Linked DNA regions of Homo sapiens: regions 1 and 2 are each linked to region 3. The links come from fine-mapping of genetic effects on gene expression. A gene starts in region 3. Each other region holds a variant in brackets. All regions are shown on one strand. Distances are between the middles of the regions. Region 1 has its middle 420 kb from the start of ZNF385D-AS2. Region 2 overlaps ZNF385D (zinc finger protein 385D). Region 3 holds the start of ZNF385D (zinc finger protein 385D).

Region 1 (8,187 bases), 620 kb before region 3:
AAGACTCAACCTAATCCCTTCTCTTCATTAGGCTTTCTCTGATAAAGTGAAAACTTCTTACCCTGAGCTTCTTGCAACTTGTTTTTCCTCTTTTATTTTTTTTTCACAAAATCTTTCAGTGCCACCTATTATAGCTAGGGCAAAAAAGCAAATACTTTTATATTTAACTTAGTGAAGACCTTTTAATCTTCATATTCACCTTATGAGGTAGATACTATTATTATCCTCCTTTTACAGATAATTTACTTCTGTATACATCATTTACTTCTTAAGTTTCATGATATCAAACATATGATTTTAAGTACATTTGTGTTCCCCCAAAGTACCCATTACAGTGCCTTGCAAATAATAATGCTTATTAAAACAATTGCTGCATTCAATGTAGTCATCTTCTGTTTGCTATAAAATAGTAATAATAAAATATTCAAATTCTCATTCAGGTTAGTTCTTCAGGCTTCTATGTGAACGTAATTCTGATTATTAGAAAAGACTGGTTGTTGCAATGGTACAAAGACCTGGTTCCCTGTCATCAGCTCAGGATAACTCTAAAGGGCCAATGCAGCCCAGAACTCCTGTGAGATTGACAGAAGGCCAGTGTTGAAACTGTATTGTAGCTTTACCCATTCCCACATGCTCTATTCTCACATGCCTTGACCTCAATGGCTCTCCCCAGCAAATAATCCTGCACACTAATTTCCATGTCTACAGAGTCTGTTTCCTGAATAACCCAATCTAAGAAAAAAGGAGTATGGGCTAACTACGTTTATTAACTTTTTAAAAAACTTTTCCAGGGCCGGGTGCGGTGGCTCACGCCTGTAATCCCAGCACTTGGGGAGGCCGAGGCGGGTGGATCATGAGGTCAGGAGATCGAGACCATCCTGGTTAACAAGGTGAAACCCCGTCTCTACTAAAAATACAAAAAATTAGCCGGGCGCGGTGGCGGGCGCCTGTAGTCCCAGCTACTCGGGAGGCTGAGGCAGGAGAATGGCGTGAACCCGGGAAGCGGAGCTTGCAGTGAGCCGAGATTGCGCCACCGCAGTCCGCAGTCCGGCCTGGGCGACAGAGCGAGACTCCGTCTCAAAAAAATAAAATAAAATAAAAAATAAGAAGGATTCCAAAGACGTTCAGCCCATTCAAGGGAGAAAGTATATGCAAAGAGCTTGAGACAAGAAAAAATTAGCATATTAGAGAAACTGAAGATAAATATGTCACTCAGGTTTGAACAACAGGCATTTTCTCAATGTGTATTCATGTTTTCTCTTTAATCTCTCTGTGCTCACCTGACCATCTCTAGAGCAAAATTTTCCCTAACTTAGTTTCCATGACATTGAAATAATAGAACCCATGACTGTATCTTCGCCCGTCTTTTTGGTAGTTCTTTGGTGTCCCTTCTTCTTTTAATCTAATAATTAACTTATTAATTATTAAAATATTCACGAACATTTTTAGAGCCTATTATCTGCCAAGCACTCAGTCAGGTGCTGGGGCTGTAACAGTTAAGAGGATACGCATGGTCCCTGCCCTCTCAGACTGAGCAGGTTAGTGTAGAAAATATAAATTGCAATGAAAAATCAGTACATTATTTTTCATCCTTATAATGACTTTATGTGGAGGGTACTATTTTTCACATTTTACAGATGAGAATATTGAGAAACAAGGAGGTCATATAGCTCTAAGCTTTTGTCCTGAGTACTTTTGTTGCTTCCTATATTCTACCTCATAAACCTCACATTCTCCCAACAGTTGAACTCCATACACATGTCCAGAGCTCTAAAACACAAGAGCTAATACAGGCTCTAATGCAGAACCATTTCCATAGAGCAAAGCTTGAATTTCTAGATGTATAAGGATCTCCACCTGAACATCTCCCGCAGACCTTTGACTACAGCTGCCTAAAGAGAACTCATTATCTCACAACCTTTCCTAAACAAACATTAAAATAAAACTGAACAACTGTAAATTCCCTTCTTGGGTTCTCAACTCCTAAAAGTGTCACTATTTTTCTAGTTCTCCAGGGACAGAAAGTTAGAGATATCTTTAATAAATGCCTCTTCACGTAATTGCTGCACGTTGTTAGTTACATCTCAGCAATGTCTCTTTTTAAACATCCTTATATTTCATTCTCCACAGCTGCTATCACTGTTCTTACCTTCATGATCTTTTACCTAGTGCTTCCACGGCCTCCTAAATGCTTTCTACAGCTCTACTATTTTCTGGTTCTAGATCATCTTATGAACCTGTTATATCAGATTAATCTTTTTGGTACATTCCTGGTCATGGAGGTCCCCTGCTCAGCATTTCTGGAGTGAAGTACAAATTGCCCAGGCTAGCAATTAGAGCCCCACTTGACATCTTCCAAATCATTTCTTCTACCTTCCTCCATGTACTGTATGCTCTGGGTAGAAGGGTAGACTATAGACTACTCCCTTCCTTTTTATCTCTGTCAGAGAAAATCATATCTTAAGACTTCTGTCAAATGACCTCCCTTCAATGAAGTATCTCCAGACTTCACTGCCTTTTGAACTTTGCTAATGTGTTTGGTGTTCTCTTCTGGCACCATAGTCTGCCTAATACGGCACTTATTGGTATGTTGTCCAATTTCTCCTTTAAAGCAGGGGCAGGACGAGTTTTTTTTCACTCCCAAGAAAGGCCTTTACCATGGTAAATTAGGCTTAGTAAGTACTTCTTGAATTGAAATAGAAGGATGGGTGTTTACATTCAGATGAAAGCATGGAAAAAGAGAAAGGGTCAAACTAACTTATCAGTCATGCTAATTCAAATCACAACAGATCTTTTGGTGCATTGACTATATTTCTGTCTTTATTTTTTTGTTCTTGGCATTTGCTCTTCTTATCTGTGGGTTAATAAGTGATTTGGCTACTTTTTAATACACACTTGAATAGCGCTGCGTGTCTGGAAAATTCAACGATGGCCTCCTGGGAGGAACAGACTGCCCCTTAGAGGATATTACTTACATTTTCTTTCTAAATCAGGGTGTGTTTGTGGGGTGGTCACTGTGGATTGTTTTTCAGAGCTTCTCTTGAGAAAATGTAGAATGGTAAATTACCAAAATCTCTCTACCCTGTCATCAGCATTAGTATTCGTAATGATTTTATCAGGAGTAATTATTAATAACAATAATGAGAAGCTTGCCTGTAGGGTATTTTATCCTTTGGCACTGTGTTCATTAGTTATTTGGCCTCCACAGCATCCTGAAACCCCATGAAAACGGGGCTTGTTTTGTTATTTCAGACTATCTTACAAATAATGGCTCAGCCGATATTAGAAAGCAGGTTTGTTCATTTGTGTGTCGTAACTCAAAATATGGTTCTTGAATCAGCAGCCTCTGCCACACCATTAAAAATACAGAATATCAGGCCCCACTCCAGATCTACTGGATCAGAATCAGAACTGTAATAAAATCCCAAGGTTATTCCTGTGCAAAGTAAAGTTTGAGAAACACCCACTTTAAGTCCTAGAACAGAGCAACAAAAGGTATTTCATCCCTAGGGTACTGTAGTGTGTGCGTGCGTGTGATTTCATCCCTAGGGTACCGTAGTGTGTGAGTGCGTGTGCTTGTGAGAGAGAGAGGAGACAGACAGGTAAGAGGAGAGAAATCTCAGTAGGATATGGGTCCTTCCAGAGGGATGGGCATGTGGGATTTGTGGATGTGGGACTCCCCTGTATTCTTGCAGTAGCTTCACCAGATTTCGTTGCGTCTGCTGTCCAAGATTGTTGAGGTTAGCGTTATTTATAGTTAAATATGAGAGTTGAGAGTGTGGGGGAAGTTGTTGTCTGGTACTGCACCCAAACCAGGAGGATAAAGGAGGTAAGCACAAAATGACAGCCCCCTTTTCGAGCCTCACTCAAAAAGCAGCTCACTCAAGCTCATTTCCGATATCTGTAGTTTCTAGATGCATTTCGCCTCCTCGTGTTTCCACTTAACACCCACGACCCACTCACTCCATTAAAGCTAGTTCCTCGCCTCTAGTCTCCAGGTTTCTTTTTTCGTGGTCATCAGTCTCGCTCTCTCCCGGCACCCTCAGGCCGCGGGCCCCTCCCTTCGCGCGGGCTCGCACCTCTCCCCAGCCTGGTGCACCTGGGCTGACGCCGGCTCGGGACTCGTGCGGAGCGCCGCGAGCGCGGCGGAGGCAGAGGCGCGCTGACTGCCACCTCCAGCCCGTGCCGGAGGGACAGCACGCGCTGCGCAACGGAGACCGTTCTCCTTGGCCGCCGCTCACGGCTCGCGGCGACCACCGCCGTTGAAGCTGCAGGCGGGCAGCCGTGCGTCTCCCGGGACAGCCAGCCCCGGCGGCTGCTCCTCCCGGATGCCAGGGCCAGGGCGCCGGGCGGCCGCCAGCAGGAGAATGAAGAGCTCGGTGGGAGGAAGGAGAGAAAAGCTCCTGGGGGCGCCGAAAGCTCAGCCCAGCCGCGGTAAGTTGAGTGCAAAAAGAGGTGTCTCGGTTCAGGTGGCGGAGTTC[G/T]TTGGGGCGCCGGGCAAGGAGCTAGGGTTGCGCCCCTGCGGGATACCAGGCGCGAGGGGCTGGGGCTCGCATGGGGGGCGCGGAATGGGCGTTCGCACCGCCCAGACCTTGGACCACCTTTTCGGTATCCCGCACTATCGGTCCACACACCCCAGCCTCTTCTCGGTGCCAAGGAGAAGAGATGTGAGGTTGCGGGGCCAGAGTGAAGAGCGCGGAGCTGGAGGGTCTCAGGTCACAGCTCATTGCCGAGAACCAAGGGGCAGGGGAGGCCGAGGCGGGGGGGCGAGGTCAGCCTGGTTCTGTCCAGAGTCGAGGGCTGGGCCACCCGGTAAGGACGTCCTGCTGTCTGTCTTTCATTGGGTGTGTGCGAGGCGTGCTCCCTCCTCGGGGGAAACCTGGCGAAGTTGTTGGGATAAAGAAACACAGCGGGACAGCTTCCTGCTTCCTTTTCATTTCCTTCTTCTTCTTCTTCTTTTTAAAACAAATACTTAAAAAAACCTGAGATACACGCGTTTTGAGGGCAGGATGAGAAGCTCTTGAGTTATATGAAGCGTCCCTCCAAGGAAATCACTTTGACATTTAGGGTGGGGTTGGGAGGCTGAGTGTAAGCCAGGGCTCCTGAATCTGATTGTCTTCTTGGCCAGCTAGTGCCTCTTTTTACGCTTCCATTGAGTACCTGGAGGAGCAAATTAGAAGAGAGCACAGAGTTGTGTACCTTTTGACCTCTTGCATTTTGGGAGATGTTTTATTGTGTGTATGAATTTGGGTCAGAGGACACCTGCAGCCTCCAAAATGGTGTCACCCTGTGTGAAATGCCCAATTCCAGATCTGTCCCCCTTACAATCAGGCTTGTCCACCTCATGTGTTTCTGGAGATTGTGCTGATGAGTGCTTTAGCCCGAGCTGGTCTGTGATTTCAAACGAGTGATGCGTGGTTTCTGGGCATTGGAGTGTCTTCAATTCTGGAACCTTGAACTGACTGAGAACATCTGACATTCTGTAGGTGTAACTAAGGACCCTAGAGCTGGCGCTGTTCTATGCTAATTCTGCGGTGTTCCCGGAATATGGTGGGGAAATCATCTCTGTTCTGCTGAGTCTGTTTGCTAGCTGGTCTGTGAAATGTGCCTTTCAGGTGACCACTGAATTCCGGTTCACGATGTTTTCTAAAACCTACTGGAAAGGTCTTCCTCCCTCTGGGTTGTCGTGCCACTCGTTGGCCTATGCTGGTAATTCAGTCACACTACTCTGGTCTCTAAGCATGAAAGGCAAATATGGGTCATTTCAAATTATGTAGATTGATGCAACACAGCATGTCCGGGCTTTGCTGCAATTTCTTCACATTTCTTTCCAGATGTTTTTTAGAAATTAACTTGAGCACTCTCTTCATGGAGCTAAAATGTAGACTAGGGGAATGGGCAAACATCTTGAGTTAATGTATTATCTCAGATTTAAGGAAATGAAGTGCTGGAAGTTGTCTGTGTTAGGAGAAAGAGACCTGAGGCAAAAATCGGGGCTTCTGAATTATTTTTGCTCTATGACAATGTGGCTGAGAGATCTTTGGGGTTACCTAATAATAATAACACCTAAAATGTGTTTCCCATTCACTGAACACCAAACTCTACAGCTAACGTAAATGCCTAACAATCCCAAGAAGGTGGCGTTGTTACCATCTCCATTCCGTAGACAAGGAAAAGGAGATTTAGAGATGTTAAATTGGGAAAAGTCCCACAGTTAGTGTTTTGTAATCCAAGATTGCAGAACTCCAAAGTCGGTTGTTAACCCCTACACAACCTCTTTGAGCCTCACTTGAAAAATGAGAGCAATAAACCTCTCTAAGTTTTAATTCCATGAAAAATTCATACAGTGATTGTAATACCATAGATTGATTCATACCCAACCATTTCAGGTATTTAATATAACAGAATGCAGAATTTGTAGATGTGAAATAAAATAAAAATTGTGTGGCACTTATATAATTCGGACTGCCAGCTTTAGAGAGGGCAGAACACTGAGATCTTAGTGTTCATCTTGAATGACGTTCTTTGAGTCCTGTTATTGTAAATCAATAGTGCTACATTATAGCCCTTGTCTTAACAATGTGTGATTTATAACATCAAACATGTCTGGTGCTAACATCATATTTGTGTGACTATAGAGTTATCCTGAGGTCTACATGAACACTTCCATATTTCAGCCAGCTTATAATTAAAGCTCAGATCCTGACAGGATTTTAAATTTCCATTAAGAGGTACAAGCAGCTTGTTTTAAAATTTCCCTTTTATTTTAAACAGTATTTTCAAAACAATTACTACCCCTGCTGTGACTTGCTATTTACCAGGTGCATCAAAAGTTCAATAATGAAAATGTTTGCAATTCAAGAAAACAGTGTTTCATCTATAGTAACGAAGATTAGATGAGTCACATCTAACTTAGTTTTTTTGTAATTTAATTAAAATGTTGCATTTCTCATTGCTAAGTGTATGCAGGTAGCTGAGTATACAGTATCCATTATTTTCTTATAATCTCCAACTTCATAAATTCAGTACTTATGAGTTCTTCAGCTAAGTAATGTTAGTACTGTCTATAAAGATTTTGAGGTTTTAAAAGTAGGAGTAAGAACAAGTAAGATAACTTTGTCATGTTTCTTCACTAGCTGTAATTATACTTTATTTTGAGAGTGATGATATATTTTAAGTCACAGATCTCATTTATCCATACATGAATGGAATTATCAAATAAAATTTGTATAAACCCATTGGGATGCTAATGCTATTAATATTCCAAATTTGGGAGCAGCTTTGGAAAATAGAAAATCTTGGGGAAATTAACGATAATTTACTATGTTTCATTGTATTTGCATGATATCTTACTGTTTCCAATAAATCTACATGTCTCATAATAACTTGCCTAGAGAGTTGTTTTATTTTTTGGCAGTAGTTAAGGAGGTTTTTATAGTAGCTAACATATTTAACCTTAGAAGAGTATTAAAATAATGAAACTAATTATGAACTTGAATCGTCAAACTGCAAAATGTTTCATGACAATGGGAGTCTTGTAAATGGTTAGCCTTATAATCACATGTATGTATTTTCTACTGTTTTAAAAATGTTTGTTTCATATTCAAACAATAGGACTAATATTTTATTTGATATTATTTGGTGATTTGAACAACCAGATCTCTGAAAGGTAATTTAAGCTCCATAAACATGAGTCACACTGACATCCCAGATTGAAGAAACTAATATTGGAAAAGGATCTGTAATTTTGAATGTTTCAAGAGCTTGGAACTCAAGGTAGATGGTACTTCTTAGTTTTCTGACAAGGACTCTAAAGTGAGAAATTGAATAAAATAAAGCTGGTGAGTTGAAAATCAAGCAAGTGCTTAAATTGCCACTTAGGAAGCTGAGATCAACTTCTGTAGATTACACACCCAAAAACTGCCAGTGTAATTTATATTTTGAACAAGTAGATGACACACGGGAGATCATTTAAAACATTCTAGTCAATTAAAAATGTATTTACTTCTACTTTTTTAGAGCCTGGTAAAGCTAGTGATGTCTTCCTGCTATGGATTGAATGTTTATATCTCCCCCAAACTGATATTGTGGAGCCCTAGCCCTTAATGGGATAGTATTTGAGGTGAAGCCTTTGAGAAATGATTCGGGTTAGATGAGGTTATAAGGGTAGAGCCCCTGTAATGGGATTAG
Region 2 (8,187 bases), 46 kb after region 3:
ACCTTAAATATTGCTTCCAACACTAAAAGTCTGCAGAATTATCATAGATCCTTTTTTGTCTATGGTTTAAGATATCTTGTCCCAAACATGCATGAGTATAAGTAAAAACAACTGAGCATCAAAGCTGAGAAAATGCGAGGACTGTAACATACTAATTTAAAATGCAGTACAGATTGGGCACTGCTCACCAATATGCATTGTGGCATCGAATGATTCTCAGGTTATGGAGGATTATGAAAAACACAAAAAGAAGCCAGTGCACCTTAAGGAATTCAGAAAAAGCCATACAGTTGAACTTTATAAAAAATAAATTGGGTTTTAGGAATTACACAGGTAATCTTAACCATATCACCCTACCCCAGTCTCACCAGATCATTGGGTCTTGCAGAGCCAATTTACTAAAAAAGCAAGTATCTATCTATTTATTTTCGTAAAAGTGTAAATTACTCCTTTTGATCTTTAGTCCTATAAATTTTGACAAATGCATGCAGTCTATGTAACCACTACCACATCAATCAAAATATGAAACTGTTCCATTTTCTCCCCCAAACTCCTTCATGTCTTTTATTCTAAACCATACCCCCATACCCAACTCCTGAAAGCGCTTGTCTGATATCTGTTTCTGTAGTTTTACCTTTTCTAAAAGGTCGTGTAATTGAAGCCATGATAGAGTATGTAGTCTTTTGAAACTGGCTCATCTCAATCATCCCAAAGCCCTTGAGATTCATCCATGTTTTGTGTATCAATAACTCGTTCCTTTTTATTGCTAAGAAGAATTCCACGTATGGGTGTGCCGTAGCTTGTCAATCTGTTCACTTCATTGAAGGACAGTTTGTTTCCAGTTTTTGGTGATTATAAAGAGTGCACCGTATACATCTTCAAATAGGTTTTTCGTAAAGTTTTTACTTTTCTTGGGAAGACACCTAGGAGTGGGACAGCTGAGTCATATATTAAGTGTATATCTAACTTTATACAAAACTGGAAAACTATTGAATTTACTTTTACAATAAATATTGAAAAAACATATAGAGGCGTCCCTCTTATCTATGACTTTTCTTCTGCTAAAACTAGTATGTGATGTTTTTCTCTTATAGTTTATTTAACCTTGAGGTGTTTAGTTCTAATATCATTCAAGAGTCACTTCTATTGAAAAGACTTGGGAAATTGATGCTTTAAGAGTAGACAAGGAGGCTAAAGAAAAAGGTGAGTCTTGTTTTGTTTTGTTTTGTTTTGTTTTCATAGAAGCCTCAGGAGGTATGAAGTTGCCTGAGAGAACCCCTGCTTCTGTTAAGAGTATGGTCAGTCACCTTAGGGTTAGAGAGGGTTTCTGGAAACTCATGGGGACTAAATTATTAGTAAAAAGCAGGTACAGACAACTCTGGCTCGAAAAATTAGAAAGTCATTGAATGTTTGGAAGGAAGATTAGCATAGAAAACACAATATATCTGCCTTTGAGTACACTGCTTCATCAAAGCACAGTGAATTTATGTGTATCATTGTTTCTGAAAGGAACGTGAGATCCTGAAGGAGATGGAAAATGGAAATAAACATTATGGTATCCACTAATACTCATGTAAAATATATAATATGTTACTGACAGCACCATATTTGTGGTTTGTGCATTTTATTTTAAGAAATATGAGAGGAAGTATTGAGCCTGTGAGAGTTTTAATTACAACCTAAGTTCCAATCTACCCATGTGTTCCTAAATCTCTCACTGTGGCTTCTTCTACCATGGAAGCTTTCGAAACAAACCTTTGCCTTTAAGGAGAAACTGCCTTATGATAGTTAAGTTTTAGTAAGGACATTAAGATCAGTATATTATTGTTGTTGTTAGTGTGTGTGTGTGTGTGTGTGTGTGCACGCCCACACACACTTCGGATGCTTTAATTATTGGCTTAATTAAACAGATTTAGAAAGGAAAAATAACCAACAAAGTCTACTGATGCAAATCTGTTGAAATTCTTAGAAAACTAAATGTATTGCTTTATGAAAGTTGATGACAAAATAAAAATATTAGAATGAGGGGAGAATCAAACCAAGCTGTAATAAAATAATTTTTAACATTGAATACAAAAAATCTGTAAAAACATAGAAAATGATAAGGAGTGAAAGCATCTTTTAAAATTTAGTAATGTAATAGAGTAATTTCAAATTTATTTCCACATTTTGGGACTTGGGTGAGGAATGTCCATGGGTCAGGAGAAGCCAATAAGTAGACTGGAACATTCAGGAATCATAAATTATAGGAGGAGGGAATAACAGTTCAGAGCAGTGGCATTAGGCAAGAGTAACTGAGTTTACCTGAGTTTAAATCCTATTTCTTCCGCTTAAGAGCTGTGCCATCTTGGGTAAGTTACTTTACTCTAGCTGAGAGCAAATAACACCACCCTCATTGTGTTGCTGTAAGCGTTACATGAAATACTGCTTGCAGAGTTCCCAGCCCAAGGCCTAGAACATAATAAGTTCTTAGCAGTTACTGCTGCTGCCCATTTGAGTAACAGTAGCTAAAATTAACCCAGAAAGACTGATTTCCTTTTACTTTTTTCCTTATAAGCACCAACAAATTTAAACTGATGCTTAGGATCTTTGACCTAATATTAGAACTTGGCTTGTCATGGAGATTTGGAGCAAAAAGGAAATGAAGATATCATTTCTAGCTGCTTCTTTGACAGATGAGGAAACTGAGTCACATAGAGATTGTTACTTTCCAAAGTCCTACATGCCCGTAGTGCCGGACCCAGGACTAAAACATCCAGCTGTCTGTTCCCAGCTCAGAGCTCCTTCCGCATCACCACTAAGTGACTTCAGGTCACTAAGCACAGATGCACACGTATAATCCTGCTTACTCACTTCTCATCTTCTAAAATTTTAAAAGAACAGATCTTTCATCTTCTACAGTTTGTATTTTTCCCATCTTTGAAGACCGATCAAGGGAATAGATATTACTAATTGGAAATATTAACCAAGAGCATTAAAGAAACTGGTACATTCTCAAGTGATCTCACTTTCAGTATAAATTTATATCTATATTCGAATTGACCATGCCCTTTCCAAATGCTGCCATCTCAGGAGAGCCCATTTCAGGTTTTGCTCATATTAGCATACACTGCTGTAATCTGCAACATTTTTTCTCCTTAGAGCATTTATGGGTTTAAACATTTTCTATATGTAGAGGTCTTTCGTTCCCTTTCAAGATTCTAACAAAGAAGCACTCACAATGTCATTAAAGGAGATATCAGGATGGGGGTTCTGTCTAAAATTTGATCTGCATTGACAATTGCTTCGAATTTTAAGCCTCCTGGTAATGATCCTAACACTTCAAAGTTAAACGGTGCTTACTGCACCATGAAATATAAATGAAAGCTTGACTTCCTACTGTACCAAAGGACTGTAAACAATCCCACACCTGTGCACAATTTATAGTAAATCAAGCATTCTGAATATCATTTCATGTTGAATATTTTAAGTGCCTTTAATAAAGATGATGTGATTTGTAAGTCACAAAATGAAGCCAATCTAAATAGGAGTTATTAAAAAAGAATAATAACTATTTAACTAAGCATCCTTTTCTCCTGGCAGTGTGATTCATTTCATCAGCTTGCTCAATTAAAAAAAAATAACAAATATTCTTGGCAAGTAAAGCCCACTCAAATTTGAATCACATCTGGGTTTTATTAAAGGTAAGCTACTGAAAGCCTTTGAACTTAAACTTCATCAAGCATTTCAAATTGTTCCCGTAGATGTATCTACGCATACAGAGGGATGAAGGCTGAGGCAGCTACTTGAAGAAGGAGGAAGAAAATAATCTGTCCTTTTCCTAAACCTGATTTGTCTCTGTGATTAGAATTTATCTGTCTAATCTATTTATCTATCTATCTATCTATCTATCTATCTATCTATCTATCATCTATTATCTTTGTGTCTATCTAAATGCTGCTCTCTCAGAAGTGGAATGTTAGGTGATGTGGTGCTCTGTTACCTTAACAGATGCCTTCATGTACATGGTGCATGCAAAGTAATGCATTTCTGGGTATTGGTCTTAACTATAACTGACTCTTTTCTACCTAAGAAGATTAATAATGGCAATAAACCATCCTGGTCCTTGATCACTTCTGATGGTAGCATTATAAAGTAGACATGAGTTTGAGAACATGTTTCCTAAGCCCCAGTTTCTGCCTCTAGTTAAGGGGCCAGCTACAACTTAGGAAAAGCTCTTACAATTTTCACTTTTGTCTCCTCAAATTGTAAGTATGCTACAACTTGTGCAAAATTAATTCCTGGCATCACTGTAGTTTTTACCAAAAGATGTACTTTTTTTTGGAGAAATATATGGTTCTTCATTGATCCCAGTGTAAAAATGTCACGTGAGCTGTCAAAAGTTGATTGTCTTTAAAGGGATGATTTGTATGATATGTGAACTGTATCTCAATCAAGCTATTAGGAAAAAAAAAAAGCTGATTGCATGATAAGGACAAATTTCTCAACAAGAGTTTTGTTTTGCCAGTGTGAAATCACATAAGGTTGTATGTCCTCATTGAAATCTGTTCTGTTTTTGTCCTTTGAGAAAGGTAAGCCAATTTTACAGTCATTATTAGTCCTGTAACCAATGAGTAACTATTCTAAGGACAAGACATATGAGAGTGAGTTAGACCCTTGGAGGAGTCAAAGTAGTGCATCAGATGTTCTGTCGTGTACAGGGATGGTAAATTTCCACTCCTCACCCCCACCTTTGCCATCATTGATCGAGTCATGCTTTCTTCCTGGTGACTGAGCTCATCTGGGCACATGTCCCAGGCTGAGGCTTTGGCAACCAGAGCTTGGTGTGGGAGTGGCAGGAATTGAGCTACTGGGTACTGCAGGGTCAGGAAGCAAGGGACAGTCCAGACAGCCAAATCCAAACATGTGAGTGGAACAGCAAAATCCACCTC[G/A]AATGCAAACAGTCTGAACCAAAGGAGAGGCATGTGGGAGCAAGTGGATTTTGGGGGTGGTGGAAAGAAGCAATGGAACACAGAGAAGGTTTTGTTTTCAGCTCTGCCATCATATGACCATGGACAAGTCTTTTATTCTCTTAGTTTTAATTTCCCCAGGTGTAAAATGAAGAGATTAAGAAATGACCTTTGAGGAAGTCCTCTTACTCTCATATTCTTTGCCTTCCCATGCCCACGTAGGTAGAAGACTACATTACACAAATTGAAAGCTGTAGGATCATTGAGATCAATAAGTTTTCAACACGGTAGAATTCACTTTTGCTCATTTCAAGTTAATTAGTTGTTTCTAATTTGCAGTTTTGTCTCATGCTCTTTGGGACTTCTATAAGAAAACATTCTTTAAAAATATAAATATAGGAGAACTTGCTGCCCTTTCTTAATCTGTACCAAGAAAATATTTCTGATGTTTTTAAAAGAGCTTATTAGTCCAGGGTATTGATATTTACTAAGTGTGCCTTCTTTTATGGGTACATTTTATTAAGCAGGGATTTGGGTCAGAGTTCTTAAACTGATAGCATGCCAGCTGCATTGTACTTGCAGATATTTCATTTGGTTCATACAATATTTTATAATAATTTAAATTCATTGCTACATTTTAAAATGAATAGATTTTAACATGGAAAAAACAAGCTTTTTGGCTTTTCTTCAAACATAGGAAGATCTGGCAACACGAACCCTACATTCTTGAATGATAATACATGTCTGGAGTTGAGTCCCAACTGCCCCTTACAGATGACTTGGGCCTCTGCAGTTTACCATGGTTACCACCAAGCCATATGAGACATATTCTTGGAAATATATGACATAGCACCCCACTGCAGAGGGATGCTAGGGTTAAGCTTATAACAAGTACTTATTAAGTATCTACTTTTTCTAGCACTATGTGAGAAATGTGAGATTATATAGTTTATTCCTTCATGTAATAGATATTTATTTAGGACCTACTATGTGTCAGGTACTGTTCTAGGTACTGGGGATACTGTGATGAACAAAACATGATTTAATGCAGCTTTTACTTTAGTATGAGAAAAAGGTAATGAATCAGGAAATAATATCCTAGCTGGGCCTGGTGGTGCATGCCTGTAGTCCCAGCTACTCATGTGACTAAGGGAAAAGAATCGCTTGAACCCGGAAGGCAGATGCTGCAGTGAGCCGAGATCACACCACTGCACTCCATTCTGGGTGACAGAGCGAGACGTTGTCTCAATAAATAAATAAATAAAATAAAATAAAATAAATAATATCAGATTTTGGTAAAGGCTATGAAATAACATGGGGTAGGGAAAGGGATAGTAAATGAAGAATGGTATTCAAGGGGAAGACAGGTAACCCAGTGACTACAGGAATGTGTGCTCGGGACTCTGAGGGGGTTTACACAGTATGTTGCAAGTACACATAAAGCAGGGCTTTTCATCTGGAATTCAGCACTTAGCAATAGCTATTGGCAGGACCTGAGTAGAATCCTGAAGAACAAAGAGGAACGTTGGTGGCTGACTGAGTAGGCAAACCAACCACTAGCTAAGTTACAGCAGCAAGGCAATGTCACCTCAAAAATAAGTTCAGTTTCAGGGAGCTTACATGGGAGCAAAAACCCTAGAGTAATCTGTTCTAACTTCCAAATATGTGTTTTGTCTTTTATGATTGAGCATTGCTTTTAACTTGAAAAGCATATGAAAAAGGGGCACAACAATTTCTTTTCAGTGGTTGTGGTTGGTAAAAGACATAAACAGGCAGGGCCCTACAAAGCAACATCAACCTATAGCACAGTGCTCAAGACACAGATTCTGAAGGGAGTTTGGCATGTTCGAAGATCTTAAAGGAATACTTGCATAGTGCTAGAGTGTATGGTGTAGGGAAGAAAGTGGTGAGAGTTGACCATACAGGAGTAGCAGCTATTGCTAGGTAAGTGCCTGGGCTCAGTTTAATCCCAAAGGTCAAGAAGAGAAGATGCTACAAATAACAACATATTTGGCCAACTCACCAGCATAATGGCCAGCTTCATGAGCCAACATGAAAAAAGAACTACAGTGGTGTCTTTACACAGGAGAATGCCATTTTTTTTTTTTTGTAAGAGGATAAAGAGCATGAGCTATATTTACAAGGTTGCAGTAACTGCTTTTTTATTTAAAAAGTTTATTTTACACACCCAGCAAGAAATAAATGGCGTGCTGAAACTGTGTAATGGAAAACATTTTAATAGAGGGGTTATTTACAATGATTGGGAAGGGTTTGAGGCAACCAAGGGATTGCACAATATCCTGGGCAAGGAGAAGAATGGTTATCTTTGAGCTACACTAATATGGTTTGGCTGTGTCCCCACCCAAATCTCAAGCTGAATTCTATCTCCCAGAATTCCCACATGTTATAGGAGGGACCCAGGGGGAGGTAATTGAATCATGGGGGCTGTTCTTTCTCATGCTATTCTCGTGATAGTGATTAAGTCTCATGGATCTGATGGTTTTATCAGGGGTTTCCACTTTTGCTTCTTCCTTATTTTTCTCTTGCCACCACCATGTAAGAAGTGCCTTTCACCTCCCGCCATGATTCTGAGGCCTCCCCAGCCATGTGGAACCATAAGTCCAATTAAAGCTCTTTTTCTTCCTGGTCTCTGGTATGTCTTTATCAGCAGCGTGAAAATTGGCTAATACAGTAAATTGGTACCAGTAGAGTGAGACGTTGCTGAAAATATACCCAAAAATGTGGAAGTGAATTTGGAACTGGGTAACAGGCAGAGGTTGGAACAGTTTAGAGGGCTCAGAAGAATATAGAAAAGTAGGAAAGTTTGGAACTTCCTAGAGACTTGTTGAATGGCTTTGAAAAAAATTGCTTATAGTGATATGAACAATAAGGTCCAGGTTGAGGTGGTCTCAGATGGAGATGAGGAACTCATTGGGAACTGAAGCAAAGGTGACTCTCGTTATGTTTTAGCAAAGAAACTGGTGGCATTTTGCACCTGCCATAGAGATTTGTGGAACTTTGAACGTGAGAGAGATGATTTAGGGTATCTGGTGGAAGAAATTTCTAAGCAGCGAAGCATTCAAGAGTGACTTGGGTGCTGTTAAAGGCATTCCATTTTCAAAGGGAAACAGTGCATAAAAGTTCAGAAAATTTGCAGCCTGATGATGCAGTCGAAAAGAAAAACCCATTTTTTGATGAGAAATTCAAGCTGGCTGCAGAAATTTGCATAAGTAGCAAG
Region 3 (8,187 bases):
TAAATTGCTTATCTAACCTACCAGAGAATTCTGTGGACCCATTTTGGTACATGTAGAGAATCTGACCACTTTTTCTACCGCCACTGTTTCTTCCCTGGTCCAAGCCATGTTCTCTTTCCTGGATTACTACAAAGGCTTCCTAACCCGTCACCTTACATCTGTCCTTGCTCGCTTTAGTCAATTCTTCATACGTCAGTCATAGTGAACTTGTTGAAGCATGTCAAATCACGTTGCTCCAAAGTTATATCATGTAAGTCATAATAAAAGTCAAAGTATTTCTAATGGCCTAAAAAGTTCTACTGAATTTGGCTCCATCTTACCTATTTGAAGTCAACTCTTGGTTTGCTTTTTAAGATCTACTCTACTCTAGCATATTGGCCTTGTTGTTCTTCCTGGCACTCATAAGGTGTATTCCCCATTTATCCTTTGCACTTTCTGCAGCGTTCTTCATCCAGCACCTGGAGTAATGCCTGGCACATGATAGGCATTCATAAGATGTTAAATTTATTCAAAAATGTTGAATGAATTCATAGATAAATAATGAATTTGTTCATTAAACGATGGATTTGTATGAGGTCATGGAGTTAAAAAAGAAAATCCTCTTTCATTTGGGTTACATACAAGTAAAGGCAAATTCCCACACTAAGTTTAAATGCTATAGTAGGAATTAGTACAGTGTGCTATGTGAAAAAGAATACAAACAACACCTCATTTAGTCTTTTGGTGAGAAAAATGTTCTCAGAAGACATAATATTTAAACAGACACCCAAAGATTGATTACAGATTGCTTCAGTAGAGAGAGCAGGTGAAAGGGAATGTAGTCTTCAGGTGAATTATAGCCATACTTTAGGTTTCACACAGTGAAGAGTGTGAAGGACAAAGTATTTACAAATGGAGAAGCGAATAGGGACTTGGTTGTCGAAAACCTTAACGACCTTGGTGGATAAAATACGGAAACAGTGAAGAATACTGAGCAAAGGAGTGGCATGATCATACCATTTTTAAAGATGATAATGGATCTAATATGGAGAATGAATTGGACATGGGCAAGTCTGAAATCAGGAACACTGGATACAATTTTATTGCTACAATATAGATAAAAGATAAAGGTGGACTAAACTAAAGCCAAGGGCGAGGCAATGGAAGACACAACTGAGCTATGCTAACTCATGCTGAATCTAAGTCTCTGCTCCATGCAGCTATGAGAATTTGAAAGGACAAACACACTCACAAACTGTGGCCTGCAGTACCATCTGGCATCTGTACTGAATGGAATTTAAGAGCAGCTGCTGCTAAGCATGGACAAATTCAATTTGTGTGAACACTTTGCACAAAACACAACCAACCTCAAAGAACTGACTTCAGGCACATAGAAAAGTATGATGTCTTACACACAATACAGCTGTACTTAGGATGCTCATTCATTCATTCCCTCATTCACAAATATTTATTGTATAATGACAAGTAGCAGGTACCTTTCTAAGAACTGTAGATATAGCATTGAACAGATAAAATCCCTGCCCTCACTGAGATTATATTCCAGTGAGGAGAAATCAAAAATAAACAGACGTCTAAAATAGTGTGTCAGATGATGATAGTTGCCATGGAGAAAAATAAGGGAGGAAAGGAGGTTAAGAAATGTCAGGGGAGGGACAAAGGCATTTTAAAACTGGAAAAAAAAAAGACAGTGAATTAGTACACTGATAAACCTTTGAGCAATATTTGAATGAGATGAGGAGTCAAGGCAGGCAGCTACCCGGATCTTAGAACACAGAAAAAATTTTCACCCAACCATGATATTTTAATACAAAATATGTAAGTGGTTTGAAGGCATCCTTTGTTTTAATAGTGCTAGGTATAATTTTATCTGGCAAGCAGGTTGGTGCTACAGCTGACCCCAGATGAACTGACTTAATTCACCTTCAGAAGCTCCTAGGTTCTCACAGATTCTTAGAGACAGGTAAAGGTCAGGGTGTGAACCAGATTCTTCCCTAGAAGCTGCTAAGTCGCTCCCTTGAGATGACATATGAAAGCATCTCTCAGGCACAGCTGGCATGTTCACAATCCTCTATCTAGCCAAGATCAGCTGTGGTTTCATTTGGAAATTATTATGCTTCAAAATTAAAAAAAATAATATGTTGAAGAAATGTGTGTACTACCATGTTCATTGCAGTATTACTCACAGGAATCAAGCAAGGTTTCCACTAGTGGATGAATGGATAACAAAGATGTCGCATATATACATAATGGAATACTATTCAACCTTTTAAAAGAGGAAGATCCTCTCATTTGTGACAATATGGATAAACCTGGAGGACATTGTTGTCTTAAGTGAAATAAGCCAGGTACATAAAAACAAATACCCAATGATTTCACTTATATGTAGAGTGTAAAAAGGTCAAACTCTATAGAAACAGGAATAAAATGGTTACCAGAGCTGCAGGGTGAGAGTATTAGGGAGATGTTGCTCAAAGTACAAAACGCAAATACACACACACACACACACAACAACAACAACAACAACAACAACCACCAAAGTTGCATTTTTTAATAAATGTATACAAATAAATAAAATAGTTTTATGTAAAACAGGAAAAAGTATACAATTAAAACAAACATCACTTGTTTTCCATCCAGAGATAAACAACTTTGTATCTTAAGCTTCTACATTCCAGATAAGCCTTAATTGCAGGGAAGAGGGGCACATATCTTTAATTTAAAAGGGCATCTTCCTTTTCTGTTTGAACAGAATTACATTGTATAGATATTACACTCAATTGTTTCTGGAATGCCATATTCTTTCAAAGGCTACATGCTGTTTTTTGGGGTATACTACCAGGCAAAGATTGGCATGTTCTATTACCAGATGCTCCCTGCTGATGTATTTGTGACCATATAGATATATTTGTTTCTAGAACATGCAGTGACATTGTTTTATTGGGGGTGACTTTTACCTGAGCCATTATAAATAGCACATTTATTTGAAGAAGGAAACCTGTTGGAGAACTGTAATATAAATTCAACAAACAAATAGTAAGACAACTGTTTCTTACTCATCACATCATTAAGAAAGTTGCTTAACATCTCTGAGCCTCAGGTTCTTCATTTGTGACATCTGTAATATCCACCTTTCTATATCTCAATTTGTTAGTAATAAAGATGACATGTGAAAGTGCCTTTTAACTGTAAAATGTCATGCAAATGCAAGCGTGTTATTAATGATTAAGGTAGTCCTTTAATGTTTCAAATCTCCTATTTGAAACTCAACTCTCAATGCTTGCATCTTCCAACTACAGGAACTCAAATGGACCCAAAGCACTAACATTAAACTACAGTGCCCCCTAGCACATGTAGGAGGTCAAGGCAGCTTACAGGCTTCATGAATAAGCTCTACCACAGATGGTTCTTTTGCCTGAGGGAAGAACTACTAATTGTACTTTTGGACAATTTCCATTTGTCCAAAAGGAAAAAACATTTACGCATTTTCTTCAATACTTTCCCGTAACATTGTTTTTATTTTAATTTTTAAAAGGGAGTAAAAAAGTTAATATCCTTTACTATGTAAATTTTCCTCTGGTGGCTTTAAATTAAGAGTATTTCTAAAAGAACAGCCCTAGATTTATCTTAAGATTCACTGTGATGTTTCTGATTTATATTTGCTTACCTACTTTCACTCACCAAATTCTTTATAATCTAGCGTGAGAGAGGATATTGTTCATTGCACTCTTCACAGAGGTAGAATACAGTTAAGCTTTTATGCAAGATTGCACAGAAAGCCGTTATTATGAGCTTCAGCCCCCTAGTTTCTATGCACATTAAATCCACCAAGAGATATAGAATCGCGTAAGGAAATGCTATAGAATATTTTAATATCAAAATGTAGAAATCTTTGCTATCACACTTTTATAAAAGCCCAGATTAAAAATATATCAATTGCATTCTTCCATAGACTACAGTTCTTTGTTTATATTTGGTTCTTAATTTCATAAATGTCTATAGAAATTTATAAGTTCAAATGTTCCAGTACGTAAATTGGTTCCCAAAGTGATGAGTCCTTAGGAAACGGAACTTGCTGTATGAGTTTATTTTTTCCATGCTGTGCATTTAAGTATTAATCAGCACAGCTTTCAGGGATTTCTTTCTAATATCCTTTTCTATGTAAGATAAGGACTGCAATTCATTATACCATTGGAGGAGCCAGAGGCTTTGCTAAGCTTTGCCTTTCTTGACCGTTCATCTCAAATTTAATGAGAGCGTTGTGTGTGTGTGTGGTGGGGGGGGGAGGGGGGTGGGTGTGTGTGTGTGTGGCTATATTATATTGGTGACTGGACTCTAACTATGGCACAATGTTGGTTGCCTTTCAGGCTAATCGTCTCTCCGTTTCAGGAGGTCAAAGATCATTTCAGCCTCAGTGTGCTTTCTACCTGCCTACTAAGGGAGGCAGCAAATTTGGTCCTGGGCAACTGAGAGGTGACTTTTATCACCAGTTATTTTTCTTCACATCTTTCTATCAACATAATAGCTCAGGGAACACTCAAGAAATAAAAAATTACACTTCACCAAGTACTAGCTTTCTGGGATGTGATCACTTCTAAGTGTGAACCTCTATTACCCTAGCAGTGGTCCCTGGCGTTCCTTTTATTCCTCTTATATATAAACATCACAAAAAATAACAACAAACCCTCAAGCCCACAGCAAAGAGAATGCAAGCACGGCACCATCCCTCTTCGTACTGCCGTTTTAACTTGGTAGAGGAGGTTAAATTTTGGAGAGAATGGTGGCATTCACAGGAGGGGCGGGGTAAAAGTGTTGTCTAATTACACGTTAATGGCAGAACTCGCCTTAACCACGTCCCTCCTGCACAGTGGTGAATTTCTCCTGTGTGTTCCTGTGTGGATCCCGACACTCTTCTCGCTTTAAGAGAGCCTCCCGCGCCCCTCACTCCGCCCCTTCCCAAGTCTCTGGGCTCGTCAAAGCTTCCCGAGAGCCATGGTTGGTCCAGGCAGGCAGTCGGAGCACCTCGTGGAGCGGCTGCTAACCCAGGGTGGGGTGGGGTGGGGTGGAGGGGTCTGCTTGTAGTACTCTCAGTCCTGATGTCACAGGCGCGGCAAGGACATCGCAAGGAGGAGTCGGATTACAGTAAGGATGGGCAGTGCAGCAGGCAGCCCGAGCGCACTCTCCAGCCGCCGGGGATCTTAGCCCTGGAAAGGCAGCCTGCAAGGCGCTCATCCCGCGGAGGAGGCACGCTCTCGGCGCTCACTGCTCTCCACGCCGGGGACATTTCCACCGAATGTAGCATGAAAGGGCTCTGCTCTACGTGCCAGCCTTGGGTGAGAGCTGATGCTGAAGACACCGCGGTGGGATTCCAGCTGTCTGATTAATGAGAAACATAATGTATTTTGGTGAGTGTTCACTCTGATGATGTAATTCTGGGGGTGTCCGGCTCTTCATCCGTGCAGACAAGCCCTTAAAAAATTCTTTAAGCAGCAAGAATATGTTACATTAAACCTACCTCCAGTTGGCAACTGGAGGACCAAGCCGGTGCAGCCTTCAAAGCTTCCTTTGTGCCACAACTGGGGCTGTTAATTTAGCCGTGGATGAGTTTAAGTTGGAAAAGAAAAGAGACAGGGACATGTGGAGGGGGCGGGGGGGTAAACTTTGCCTTGATTTGCCTGAATGAAGTTGGCTCTTTTAGCTAGGTGAAGGAGAAATAGTGCAGCGTGGGAAGTCATGAGCTAACTTAATGGAATGTGAAACAAAGTTTCTATACAATTGATGCTGTGAAAGCTTAGTCAATATGAGCATTTCATTCAGTATTTGCTGGTTTTTCTTGTTCTGAGGCGGAAAAGGAAAACATTGTCTAGTGAGCAGTGTGGTTGAGCAGCTGAGAACACTTCTCTATATCATCTCAGTGCTCTGTCTAGCTAGGAGCAGCCTAGCACAAAATGCATATTATTTGAAACCTTTAGAGGTCTCGGAGATGTCAAATATTTGTGCAGGTCAGTTTTGTGCCACGGTAGAAACCTCAGTTAGGTTTTCAGTTGAGCTGCCTGCATTTCCAGAAAGCATGTTGAGGCTTGGATCCGAGCTATCAGTTGAGCACTGGAAGTGGGCTTGGAGCTGTGCATTTGCACTCTAACGCCGCAACTTACTGCTAGTACAGGAGGCAAGCCCCTTCACTAAATAAGAAGAAGTCAAAGATAAGGACTGAATATTTGTTCCTCCTCTCTGAAGTTATGCTTTCCTTCTGTAAGTCCTATCTGGCGTCATCATTTAAGGGCATCTATGCGATATTAAAAGGTTTGATAGAGCAACTGGAGAGGGGCTAGGAAATGTATCCAAGATGCAAATGCTCTGATTTCTTGGTTTGCTTTAAATATTAAATCTAGCGTCTTCTTTCAGATTAAAGAGGTATTTAGATAAACTTAGGTTGGGGCACTATTAGTTTGTTGGAAATTTATTTCTGTATGTACTATTTGCTCTGTTTTGTTTCCTTTAGGCTTTGAGACACTTGAGAGTGTGTGGAAGGAATCTAAGTTCCAAAAGCTAAATGCCTTTAGTTGTCTTGACAGTTTTGATTTGCCTATAATTTGTATCATATTAGAAGAGAAGTCTTAAAATAGCTGAAAATGATTTGGAAGAAACAATTTCATTGCATTGCCAAATTTAAGCAGAATCTGTAGTTAAAAACCATCTCTTTCCAGTGGGTAGTAATGGAGGTGGTAAGCTTGTTTATTGGCCACTAACAGAGTTTATCATGCATATATTTTCATAAATGGAAAAGCTTGTAAAGATAATAGGTCTTTTGGACAAAATACAATTTCAGCATCAGTAATGATACTGAAGGATGATGAAACAGATTATAATTTTAGTTTATATTTTCACCCTCTTGAAACAATTCCTTATGTGATCGTCGTGAGGAAGTAGGGCCAATTAGAATAGCAGTAGAGTCTAAAAGTACTGGTCAAAGGCCATCCATGCTGGACTGGATTATCGTGTGACTATTGGAGAAATGTTCAGTGGGCTAGCTTGTGTTATTAACTGTATGCTAGTTCAGCCTCTTGTAAAGCAGAGTGATTCATAGGGTAATCAATTTCATTGTGTAATGCAAGTTTTTAATAGTACGAATTGAAATGTGATGTCCTACTTACTTTAGATGAAACTCTACTCTTTGAAAGGCAAGGCTAAAGTTGCCCTCAGTGTCTTGAACATTGTCTTACCATAATTTTGGTATAAGAAATGTTTTTCTGCTCCCAGAGGAAATCCTATGTATTCAGGAATGCTGTTTCTTTCGGGTTATGCTATGCAGCTTCTCGTACAAGCTGTTAGATATCCACAACTTTGGGAGCCCACCTGTCTCTAAAAAAAAAATGTGTGGTACAAGAGCGAGGGCAAAAAGAATTGAGCAGTACACTTCAGGCATGTTAAAATTCAATAGCATCCTAATGTTTGAAAATGCTGAAGACTATGTATTTATATATGTATGTATGTACGCACACACATATATGTGTACATGTGTATGTATCTTAATGTGTGTGCGTGTTCAAAATTGTAGCGATTTCAGGTAATTTTTCCAAGCAATGCTTTCACTTTGCAAATTGGTTGGCCATTACTTTCTTCTTCATTTTTCAACTGCAAATGGTTTATCAAGTCAGGGAGAACAGGGACAAAGGGAAAGCAATGCTGCATTCTTAGGCTTTTCTGGTGACTTGTGAGAATGGGGTAGAGATGTCACAAATCCTTTATTTGTGTCCCCAGCAGAGCGTGATGAAGAGCATGGTGATGCTATGGTACGGGTGAATTGATATGAAAGCGGGATATTTACTTCCTTTATAAATCATCTGATTTGTCAGTGTTGCCCCCCACCCCCACCCCTTCAAATATAGCTGAAGAATCACTACCTGAATAGCCTGGCTCAGCCTATCTGCTTCAATTCATTCCTCCTTCCCCTTGGGACTGGACAACTGGACCCTGCCCTTGCTTAGTTGGAGTCAGTTGTGTGTGTGTGCAAGTTGGTGGAAGATGTAATATTTTCAGATCTCAAGAACAGCTCATGTTTGTAGTGTGCTGTCTCAGACTTGCCAGAATAATAGAGCTTTCTAATGACTTAAGCCTCACTCTTATCTCCTATTGAGATTTTAGTGCAGTGTTTTCAATAATCGTTCATTTGTACTTCCTGTGCTGTGA

Evidence for each region.
Region 1: its variant is fine-mapped to the expression of ZNF385D in testis (GTEx, PIP above 0.99).
Region 2: its variant is fine-mapped to the expression of ZNF385D in nasal epithelium (TOPMed, PIP 0.96).

What each region holds. Positions count from the first base shown.
Region 1 is chr3:22,368,697-22,376,883 of GRCh38, reverse strand. It overlaps a transcript of ZNF385D not described here. Among named protein-coding and RNA genes, the nearest start is that of ZNF385D-AS2, 420 kb to the right of the region's middle. The variant G/T (reference allele first, on the strand shown) is at 4,482.
Region 2 is chr3:21,702,536-21,710,722 of GRCh38, reverse strand. All of the region lies in intron 1 of ZNF385D (zinc finger protein 385D), which reads left to right. Among named protein-coding and RNA genes, the nearest start is that of ZNF385D, 45 kb to the left of the region's middle. The variant G/A (reference allele first, on the strand shown) is at 4,932.
Region 3 is chr3:21,748,110-21,756,296 of GRCh38, reverse strand. ZNF385D (zinc finger protein 385D) reads left to right here and starts at 5,087. Exons shown (of 8, transcript NM_024697.3): 1 at 5,087-5,402. The coding sequence starts at 5,381.